Linked DNA regions of Homo sapiens: region 2 is linked to region 1. Evidence: fine-mapped expression QTL. A gene starts in region 1. The other region holds a variant in brackets. All regions are shown on one strand. Distances are between the middles of the regions. Region 1 holds the start of MAPK13 (mitogen-activated protein kinase 13). Region 2 overlaps MAPK14 (mitogen-activated protein kinase 14).

Region 1 (5,375 bases):
GCCTCCGAGCTGCTTCCTACTCCTTTCTTGCTGCTGCCAGTGTGCATCCCCCAAATCCCATCTGAACATATCACCTCCCGGCTCAAAGTCCCCAGGTCTTGAGGCTGCCTGTAGGGTCAGTCCAGATTCAGCTTGACCAAGCCAGCTGCTGGCCTCCACGTGCCACACTGACTTCTCCATCTTGTCCAAATAGTCCAGTCTCATTCAGACACTGCACAGGCAAAGCTATACATTTTGCAGCTAAATATTCTGGTTTTCTGCCATTCTGTCAAACACCCCCATCAGCCAGAGGCAGCCAAGGCTTCTTAATCCTTGCTTCATGCTAGAAAGAGCTCCAAGGTCCAGACTCACATCTGTGTCCCCAGGAAAGGTGAGTTGGTGCTAACCCTGTGAGGACTGGCAGATGTGTCTTCATGGTGTTAAAGCTGGGTAAAAAGCAAAGCAGCTGTGCAGACTGCCCCCTGCCAGGCAAGCACCCCACAAAGTCCTTCCTGCCTCTTCCTGCCTGCCTTTGGCTAAAAGCATCTTTCCAGAGAGAATCACACTTGACAGGCAAAGGCACAGGACTGCCAGGGAAGGAGGCTCTCCCCGCCACACCCGGAATAGAAACCCTAGACCCTCCCCCACCTTGCTCCCCAGCGGCATGTAAGGCCTGCAAATGCCCCAGAACCCAGTGCAGCCCAACTCACAAGTCATAGAAGTTGCGCAGGGAGGAGGCTGGGGTGAAGACATCCAGGAGCCCAATGACCTGGGGAAGAAGTCACCTGTGAGGGCTAGACAGACGCTACCTTCTCCTCCCACCTCCTCCTGGGCCCTGGCCATGCACAGGGCCATCCACCCTTTCCTAATACACCACCTCCAGCAGGAGGCATGTCTCCAACCTTCTTGGAAGCAGTAAAAAGGGCAGAGGCCTAGAGGAATCCCCTGGATTTGGAGGGAGTTTGCAATAAATCATGACAGAGAGTCAGGCTGGGGAGAAGGGAAGGTGGGGAGAATGATGTGTGCTCATTGCTGTCAAGTCTGGTGTCAGGGCAAGCAACACAAACCCACTCTCAACTCACCTAGGCAGCAGGAAAGCATAAGGGGAGGGTGGAAGGGAAAAAGGAGGGAACAGAGAAGGAGCTTTTCAGCCAGCAAACTCCCTGCCCCTGACCTTGGGTCTCCAGCCACATCCATCCTTGCCTGCCACAGGGCTGGTTCAGAGCCAAGGGCAAGATCACCCTGGCTGGAGGCCATAGGGGAGGGGTTTGCTGGAGAAGGATGGGCTTAAAATGTACATAACATTTTGAAATCATTCTTTGAAATGTCTGCCCTCCAATCTAGGTATCCTGCAGCAAAGCCTGGCTGCCAGGCCCTGAGCTGGGCCCCTGGTTTTCCCAGCTGCTTCTATCAGACAAGACAATCTGATGGTCATGTGCTCAGACCGGGAGCCTCGCTGCCGAGATTGAAACCCCAGCTCTGCTACTGACTAACCATCTAATCTGTGAGCCTTGCTGTGCTTTAGTTTCCTGTCTGTGACATGGGGGCAGTAGTACTCATATATCATGAGGACTAGACAAGTTAGTGTATGCAGAGCTCTTAGAACATAGGAAGTGCTCAATATGTGTATATTGCTATTGTTATCAGGGTCACGTGGACACAACGCTAACTAGGATTCTAGTCCCAGCTGGCCACAAGCTCTCAGACATGGAACCAATTACAAAGTTCCCCTGTGCCAATTTCCTCTGTAGGATAACACAGTCTGTACCTCACAAAGTGCATTCTGCCAAAAATACCCTTTGACCTCTTCCTGGAAAGTGGGCAGGGAAGGTCTCGGCACCCCCTCCTTTCAATAGTGAGGCGAGAGGCACCGTCAGGGGAGCAGGGAGGAGACTGTCCCGAGCTCTCCATACCGGGAGGCCCCGCCTGCGCCTGCCCCTGACTCCCCAGGGCAGCCCCCACCCCCTCCCCGGGGCAGCCACCACCTACGTTCTCATGCTGCATGTGCTTCAGCAGCAGCAGCTCCCGGTAGGCGCGCTTGGCGAAGATCTCGGACTGAAAGGGTCGGCTCAGCTTCTTGATGGCCACCTTCTCCCCTGACCGCTTGTCGATGGCCGAGCTGTCGGGCACAGGCCGGTCAGCAGGCGAGGCTCTCCTCCTGGGCCGTATCTCCCAGACCGCCCTGACCCCTCCCACTGGGCAGCTGGGCTGAGAGGGGACTAGGCCCACCACCTAGAATATGGGGGAGCCGCGGGACGCAGGGCAGGGAGTAGGAAGCCAGGCAGGAGCTGAGAGAGGGGCACAGCGCCAGGGGCAGCAACGTCTCATTGCGACGGGATCCACGGCAGGGCGGGAGTCTCACTCTGTCTGCAACTTGGCGAGCCACCTCCCCCTCTTGGGGCCTCGGTGTACTCGTCTGTAACAGTGAGGATCTGCCCGATGAACTCTGGGGTCTTGCAAGTGTACAGTCCTGGAGAACCAGGCCCAGTCCCAACTCAACCCCCAGAGACCTCACTCAGCCACTCGGTGAGAAAAGGGAGATGGCCGCTGGGTGGCCCCGGGGAGGGCGCTGGGCCTTGAGGTCCGCGGTCAAGGTGGCGCTGGCGAGGGGCCAGCCCAGGGCGGGCTGGGCGGAAAGGGGAGAGCCTGGCGCCCGCCCCCCGCCCCCCAGCGGCCCAGGGGTCTCACCACACGGAGCCATAGGCCCCGCTGCCGACGTGCGTCGGGGACACGTAGGTCTTGGGCAGCTCCCAGGCTGTCTTGTTGACGTCCTGCTTGTAGAAGCCCTTTTTCCGGATGAGGCTCATCCCGGGCACCCGATCTCGGCGGCCCCAGCGTGGCGGCTGCGTTCGCGGCCCAACGGGCTCCCAGCGCCCCGACCCCCGCTGCGCCCGCCCCGCGCCGCCCGCTCCTCCCCCGCGCGAGGGCGGGGGCCCCGGGCTGCTACGCTCCCACCTGCCGGCTCGCCCAGGTGCGCCGGGGCCGCCACGCCCGGGCCTGTCCAGCCCTGCGCTCCCGCGCTTCCGCCCGGCCCGACGGAGCCACTGCGGCAGGTGCGGCCCAGGCACGGGGTCGGGGCTGCCCAGCGGGACCCCGGTGCCTCCCAGCCGAGCGCGGGCCAGCGGCGGGGCTGGTGGGTCCAAGCAGGAGCGGGGAGGCAGTGCTTCCCAGTTCCCTCCAGCCCCGGTCTCCGTAGGAAGAGCTCCCTGTGACTGTGAACACACAGGAAAGCAGAACAAAACCCCACAACCTCTTCATTATGGAAAATGTCAAACATGCAGGAAAGAATTGAACAGAGTAAGCCAGCGCTTCTCACACTTCAGTGTGCTCAGGAATCCCCTGGGCATTTTATTTGATTAAAATACAGATCCTGACTCAGTAGGTTTGGGGTGGAGCCGAGATTCTGCATTTCTAGCCAGCTCCCAGGTCTGAGGCTTCTGAACCACATCTGATAGGAGGTTCTAATGAACCCCCGTGACCCCAATTCCCCAGCAACCACAACTCATAATCAATTTTATTTCATCCACATTCCTCTCCCACCATCGTTTTGAAGCAAAACCCAGGCGTCATATCATTTTATTCATAAATATTTTTGTATCTCTAAAACGTAAGGATTTTTAAAAGTACGTATCCACAATACTATATATATATATTTTTTGAGACTCTGTCGGAGTGCAGTTGCCATCTCGGCTCACTGCAACCTCCGCCTCCCGGGTTCAAGCAATTCTCTGCCTCCGCCTCCCGATTAGCTAGGATTGTAGGTGCCTGCCACCAAACCCGGCTAATTTTTGTATTTTTAATAGAGATGGGGTTTCACCATCTTGGCCAGGCTGGTCTTGAACTCCTGACCTCGTGAACCACCCGCCTCGGCCTCCGAAAGTGTTGGGATTACAGGCGTGAGCCACCGCGCCTGGCCCACAATACATTCTTAAACCTAAAATTAATAGCACTAATTCTATAATACCAAATATCCACGCAGGTTCAAATGTGCAGGATTTTTGTTTGTTTTTGACATGGAGTCTCACTCTATTGCCTAGGCTGGAGTGCAGTGGCGCCATCTCAGCTCACTGCAACCTCCGCCTCCCAGGTTCAAGCAATTCTCTTGCCTCAGCCTCCTGAGTAGCTGGGACTACAGGTGCACACCACCACTCCTAGCTAATTTTTGTATTTTTAGTAGAGACGGGGTTTCACCATGTTGGCCAGGCTGGTCTTCAACTCCTGACCTCAGGTGGTCCGCCCACCTCAGCCTCCCAAAGTGTTTGGATTACAGAAGTGAGCCACCGCACCTGGCCCAAATGTGCAGTTTTGAACACAGTTTCTGTGGACTTCCTAAGGCTCTATGAGGACAATGACTAATTGGGGCCCTTGCCACCTGTCTGGTGGCCTGTGCAGCCTGATGGAGATTCTTTGCTCAAACCACAAAGGCCTCTGAGGAGCAAGGTGGGCAGGTGGGGGGAGGAGATGGCTGCAAGGGCTCTGGATGCCCAGCCTGACTTGTCCAACCCCTCTCTTGCCCAGGCATGGGGCTGTGGAAGGGGCGGGGACCACCTGCTTCACTTTGTCAAAAAGAAGGTCTATTGAACAAGGAAAGAAATTTGCTAGGGGCTTACAGCAAGCCGGGGGCCCACACTAGGGAGTCTGCAGCCCCCAAACTCTGTGCCCCAAGCCCTCCCGGGCAGTCCTGCAGCCTCAGGCACAGCCTGGAAGATCATTCTGAGATGAGGGTGGGGTGCCATCATCACACAACAACACCTGCCATTATTTCAGTCAGGCAATCTGTCTTTTTCATTTCTGGCACATGGCAATATAACAGCAAATGTGTGGAGAATGAATGGAGGAGTCAGCCCATTAGATGTAAAAGAGTCATTTAATACACACTTGTGTTTGCCATGTGCCCGTCATTAAGTGTTTTATATAACTCACTTAATCCTGGTAAGAGGCCTGTGAGTCAGTAATATGATTATCCTCATTTTAGAGATGAGGAACCCGAGGTACAGAGAGGCTAAGTAATTTGCCCAAGGTAACACAGCTGGTAAGGGCAGAGCTGGGTGAAAGCAAGTACAGCCTGATTCTAGAGTCCCTGCTCTTGGCTGCGAGGCTATGCGGTGGCCTAGAGTTGACAGAATTGCTCCTCAAAGGAAATGGCCTTGCCCACATCATAAGGACATGTCTACTGATCCAACCATGTCTCCCTCAGTCCATCCTGCCCTGGGGTATCTGATATTTTCCCCAGCCTTTTCCCTCCCCCACCCCCTACTCTGGCCCTGAGACCCCATGAGAGCCTAAGGAACGGGGTCGCTTGCCTGTGAGTGCTGCAGGAGTTTTGGACCTTTGGGATCAGTGGCACCAGTGCAAGGTACCTTGATTCTGAAGTTGGGGTGGGGTCCTGGAAGCCA
Region 2 (5,354 bases), 23 kb after region 1:
CTGCCTCCTTCCTTCTTGCTCCAGTTGACTCAGGGGGTCCACCCTGTCCCTCTGGAGTACATGTATCACTGCACTGATTGAGAAATGGAAACACCTTGGCCCAAATACAAGATTCTGTCACACAGCCAACACTGGAAGTGACTTTATACTTTCTTATTACACAAAAGGCTTAAATATATGAGTCCTCATGTAGAACAAAATGCCTGAAATTCAGCAAGTTATGAAAACGACACTTCTCCACCCCTGAGGATATTTTATCTTTATAAAGTTGAAAATACAAAATATTAAAATAATTTGCCCTTTCTCCCCATCAAAAGGAATCACATTCTCAAAGGATTCCTACAATATACAAAATTCTGAAACAAAATTTATTTCTCCCCAAACCAAGAAGTCAATGTTAAGCTGCCAAGAAGACCCTTTTCCATAGGAGTGGAAAAGACACCTTGTTACTTTTTTATTTTAAAGTAATCATATTTAGAGAAAGACAGCAAAAGGAGTTTCTGGCCTTATGGGCTTTAATTTTTTACTTTGATTTTCAGCATTTCTTAGCATTAGTTATTGGGAGTGAAGAGAATAACTTGTTTCCGAAGTTTGGGATATTCCTGGGAAAAGCCCTGGTCTTTTCCCATGATAATTCCTCAAAAATAGTTGGTTGAAAACAGATGGCATGAATAAAAATGCTATACATCCACCTGTTCCTCTTTTCATGATTTTCACATCAAAAGCACCTGAAGTATCAATTGTGTTCAACACAGAATAGCACTAGGGGCTGAAGAGAGGTGATATCACTTGCCATAATATCAGCTGAGGTGACATGGGATCTAAACTACCCAAGAAGTCTTCACTGGCAAACCTGCCTGACACCAGGGCCTCCTGAAGAGAGCAGGACAAGCAGCTGTGCATGCTCAAATAGCAAGACGTGCAAAACACATCCTCACTCTGCTAGAAATAAAGAGTACACAGGAAGTACATGACATCAAGAACCTGCTTCTGACTACTGGGGCAGATATTCAAGAAACCTCTGCACCAAAGGTGAAGGGTAAGCAGAGAAATGGCAACACCTGGGGGTGAGGGAGAAAGAGAGACGCACATATACGCATGTGCTCACATGCACACATGACCGCCTATGAAGGCTGCCTGATTACTCCGGGCCCACAAGCAGCTGTCCAACAGCCCTCTCGACTTGCCCGGCTCAGAACTTCAGCAGCTGCAGTCTTTTAACTATCTACACTTTCTTCTCTCCTTTTAAGGCACAAACATATTTACAGTTTCAAATATACTGTCAAGATCTGAGAACCATACTAAGCAAGTTAATCACAGGCTAGTGCACAGAAGCCAGTTGGTCCTTTTTGGCTGTACGTATCACTGAGGGACGGTGTCAGGTCTGAAGCAACCAGAAGGTATGGGCCTTCTCTCCGTGCCACTGTGGGATGTTGTCAAGTCTACGCCCCACCGTCAAGGTGGGGTCACAGGAGAAGCCAAAGTGGCAAAAGCATGACCGGGATTGGGGACAATTCATATTTTTTTACTTTGCATTGAACATATTCCTAAAAGGACAGCAGCTCTTGTCTGCCTGAGCCAACTCTCAGAAAGAAGAGCAAGGTGGAGGCTGCCCTGGAGCATCCACAACCTCCTGTAAAGTCACTGTGATCATAGTTTGTTCATATTGTCTTACCCTCCCACAAAGACAGACACACACATGCACACACACTAACACGCACGCACACGCACGCACACCCCCTTCCACCATGGAGGAAATCTCTGCAACAAGAGGCACTTGAATAATATTTGGAGAGTTCCCGTGAAAAGGCCTTCCCCTCACAGTGAAGTGGGATCAACAGAACAGAAACCAGGTGCTCAGGACTCCATCTCTTCTTGGTCAAGGGGTGGTGGCACAAAGCTGATGACTTCATCATAGGTCAGGCCTAGAAATTGGGAAGGAAAAGTAAGATGTGAGAGTTTAGGCTATTCTCTTTGCTGGCAAGCACTCTGACTTCTAAGCTCAAGATCCTTCCTCTCTGTCCAGGTAGTGGTTTGATGGGCTACCTCACAGCTTGTATGTAATAGCCTACTGGAACACGTTATCACACAGAAGTTCAAGGGACATAGAAAAGAACCATTTTTTTTCTCATGTTTTTCATCGCTGAGTGCCTCTTCTTTTAAGCTCTCTACGGAGGTGCTCAAGAATGAAAGAGCACTCTCACAAGCTACAGCAACAGATGGTCTTGGCTCTTGGGATTTAACTAGAGTTCTGAACTTGTGTTTTGTGGAAAGAATATGGGACTGGACACAGGATACATGGGTTCCATTCCTGGCTATGTCCCTAACTAGTTCTAAGTTAACTGATAAGACATAAATTCTCTTTGCCCCAGTTCTACTAATTGTAAAACTGTAAAAGCTCAGAGAGATGTTGTAAATGCAATGACTCTGAAAACCTCAACTCTCCATGCAAAACTCCTATGTGAGGGGCTGTGCATAAAATCAGACCAGACATAAGTATCTCAAAGGTCCAGAGAGTATCACTGTCTACAACAGTTTCCACCAGAGAACATATTCATTCTGCATTAGAGACCTCATCTACAAGCTTTAGCAAGTTGGTTATGACCATTCAGTTTTTATTTTTCCCACCGCTTTTGGTTAGTGGTTCAAGATGTTAATCCTACCCTTAGGACTTACTTTTCCACTCATCTATAAGGAGGTCCCTGCTTTCAAAGGACTGATCATAAGGATCGGCCACTGGTTCATCATCAGGATCGTGGTACTGAGCAAAGTAGGCATGTGCAAGGGCTTGGGCCGCTGTAATTCTCTTATCTGAGTCCAATACAAGCATCTTCTCCAGCAAGTCGACAGCTATCAGTACCA[T/G]AGACAGGAAGGAAAAGAGTTTTTAACATGTTACAAAAAAGTATGCCTTATTGAGCAAACATAGTTTTGACCCTTCATATCCAAACAAAGAACTCTCCTCCAAAATACCTACTCTAGGATATATTAGCCCTCTTCTCCTTTATGTGTGTATGTGTGTGTGTGTGTGTGTGTGTATCTGTATTTTCTATGTTTTAAAATTTTTTTATTTTATTTTTGATTTGGGGGTACATGTGCACATTTGTTACATGGGTCTCACCACGGACTGATGGGGACTGGGCTTCTAGCGTGCCCATTAACCAAATAGTGAACATTGTACCCGATAGGTTATCTCTCAACCCTCACCCTCCTCCTGTATTTTGTATTTTTAAAGAATATGTTACTAAAGAAGAATTTTTTTAAATGACTGGGATTCTGTTTGAACAGGCTTTTGTGGACCGTCAATGTCAAACTGCTACCAGTGTAGTCAAACTGTATAAAACAAAGCCTACAGCTGAAGTAACCTACAATAGGTAGGCAGGGCTGTTTTTTTTTTGTCCCCCTAAGCTGTTTATTTACTAACATCAAATATTCATCAACAGATCTTCAAACAGTGAATAAACTGGGGGTTTTACATGGTGATGAGGGTGAGACATGGTATTAAAATCAAAGGGAATTTTATTTTTAAAAATTTCACTATGAAAAATTTCAAATATACAGAAACAGAAAAGTAAAAACTATGATAAAGTGAACACTCATATGCCTAGCATATTCAACAATTAACATTTTTATATTTCTGTATTTATATGTATTTTTTTCTGAACTGTTTTAAAATAAAATTATAGACATGACACTTTACCCTCCCCAAATATTTCAACACGAAGACATCTTCCTATATAATCATAATACTGTTATTATCTCTGACAAATAATTTCTAAATATCATCTAAAATCCAGTTCATGTTAAGATTTCTCCAATTATTCCAACGTTGTCTTTTAGAACTAGTTTGTTGAAACCAGGATTCAATTAGGGGCCATGCACTGCAACTGACTGGTTTTCTTTAGTCTCTCTTAGTCTAGAATAATCTTCTTACTTCTAAGCCCTGTTCTTTCCTGATTTTGATCTAAAGAGACCCTCTGATTGTCCTGAGAATGACCGTTTCTCGGGATGTGTCTGATTTTGCTTCTTTTGCTGTCATGTGTCTATACCCTGCTTTCCACTATCCCCTGTACTTCCCAAAAACCGGAAGTTAGGTCAAAAATTTTGGTAAGAATCAGGTTAAACATTTTCAGCAAAAATACAGGTGATGCTGTGCACGTGACAGTGCATTAAGGCCATCTGTCCCACTACTAATGAGCTAAAATTGATCACTGGGTTAAGATGTTTCCCCTTTGACCAAAGCAAGTAATCTGCGGGATATTTTGGTACCAAGTAAATATCCATTCTTTTCACTTATGGCTTTCTGCATTCACTGGGTTTCCTTCCCAAAAGCAATTATTTCATAAGGGGTTACAAAATGGTAATTTGTCTAACTCTATATTTCAAATGAGTATTTTTGTGTTTCAGCATGGTGGCACTTGGGAGAATAAATACTGCCATATAACCAGTTATCACTGTGGTGAAAAAGGCTTTTGAGACTTTGCAAATTACTCCTTAAATGTGGAGGGTGTGGGGGTGAGTAGTGAAGAGGACAGCTTCCTATAGAGATCTACTGCTGTGTATATTGGAGGCTGTAAAACACCCGTCCTACAGCTTGAATTCCAGAGTAATCCACTGGAGAAATATGGGCTTCAAGGGGATACAGAAACAAAGTAAATATTCATGTGTCAATTCAAGTTCATAAGTTTACACTTTACAGTACTAGGTGAATGCCTGGATTATATATATATATATTCTTCTGATGGTCTTCTCTTCTTAGAAAAAGAAACCTTATCAGCTGTTGATTTTATAATTGAACACAGATTATACGACAAGTCTCTGTTACCCTTAGGGTAAAAAGGACCATGTTCTTATAACCAATAAGGTCAGGGGCAAGAACAAATTCCTCAAAGATCTTATTAGCTGGGCATGGCATTATGTGCCTGTTGTCTCAGCTACTTGGGATAGGGAAGAGGAAGGATCACTTAAACACAAGAGTTCGAGGTTATCATGAACCGTGACTGTGCCACTGTACTCTAACCTGGGTGACAGAGTGAGATGCCATCTCTTAAAAAAAAAAAATCTTGACAGATAAATACATACACTAACATCAAGGGGTAATTTAAGTTTTAATTCATGTTTTGGGAATAGCAGTGAAACAAAGTCAGTGGCTGACAAAACAGAGCTGTTAATATTTATATTTCTGGCATGTTCCTGCTCAGTTAATATGCTGGGCACGAGCTTGTGATAGTAACACTGTGCTCCATCTGCCCAGCAAGGGGAGCCTCATTATATGACATCACTGTTTGGCAATGGGCTGTAAGGCACGTTTAAATGCTGAGAAGTACAGTGCTGAGCACCAGATGGACCAAAGCCTC

What was found. PIP is the estimated chance that this variant, and not a neighbour inherited with it, causes the effect.
Region 2: its variant is the best candidate, but not a certain one, in a credible set for the expression of MAPK13 in fetal neocortex (Walker 2019, PIP 0.54).

What each region holds. Positions count from the first base shown.
Region 1 is chr6:36,127,994-36,133,368 of GRCh38, reverse strand. MAPK13 (mitogen-activated protein kinase 13) reads right to left here and starts at 2,856. Exons shown (of 12, transcript NM_002754.5): 1 at 2,668-2,856; 2 at 1,969-2,098; 3 at 690-748. The coding sequence starts at 2,786. RefSeq lists enhancers at 1,131-1,380, 2,091-2,210, 2,102-2,705 and silencers at 1,851-1,960, 2,601-2,670, 2,711-2,960.
Region 2 is chr6:36,104,951-36,110,304 of GRCh38, reverse strand. MAPK14 (mitogen-activated protein kinase 14) reads right to left here. Exons shown (of 12, transcript NM_139012.3): 11 at 2,677-2,850; 12 at 1-1,925. The coding sequence ends at 1,858. Among named protein-coding and RNA genes, the nearest start is that of MAPK13, 23 kb to the left of the region's middle. The variant T/G (reference allele first, on the strand shown) is at 2,863.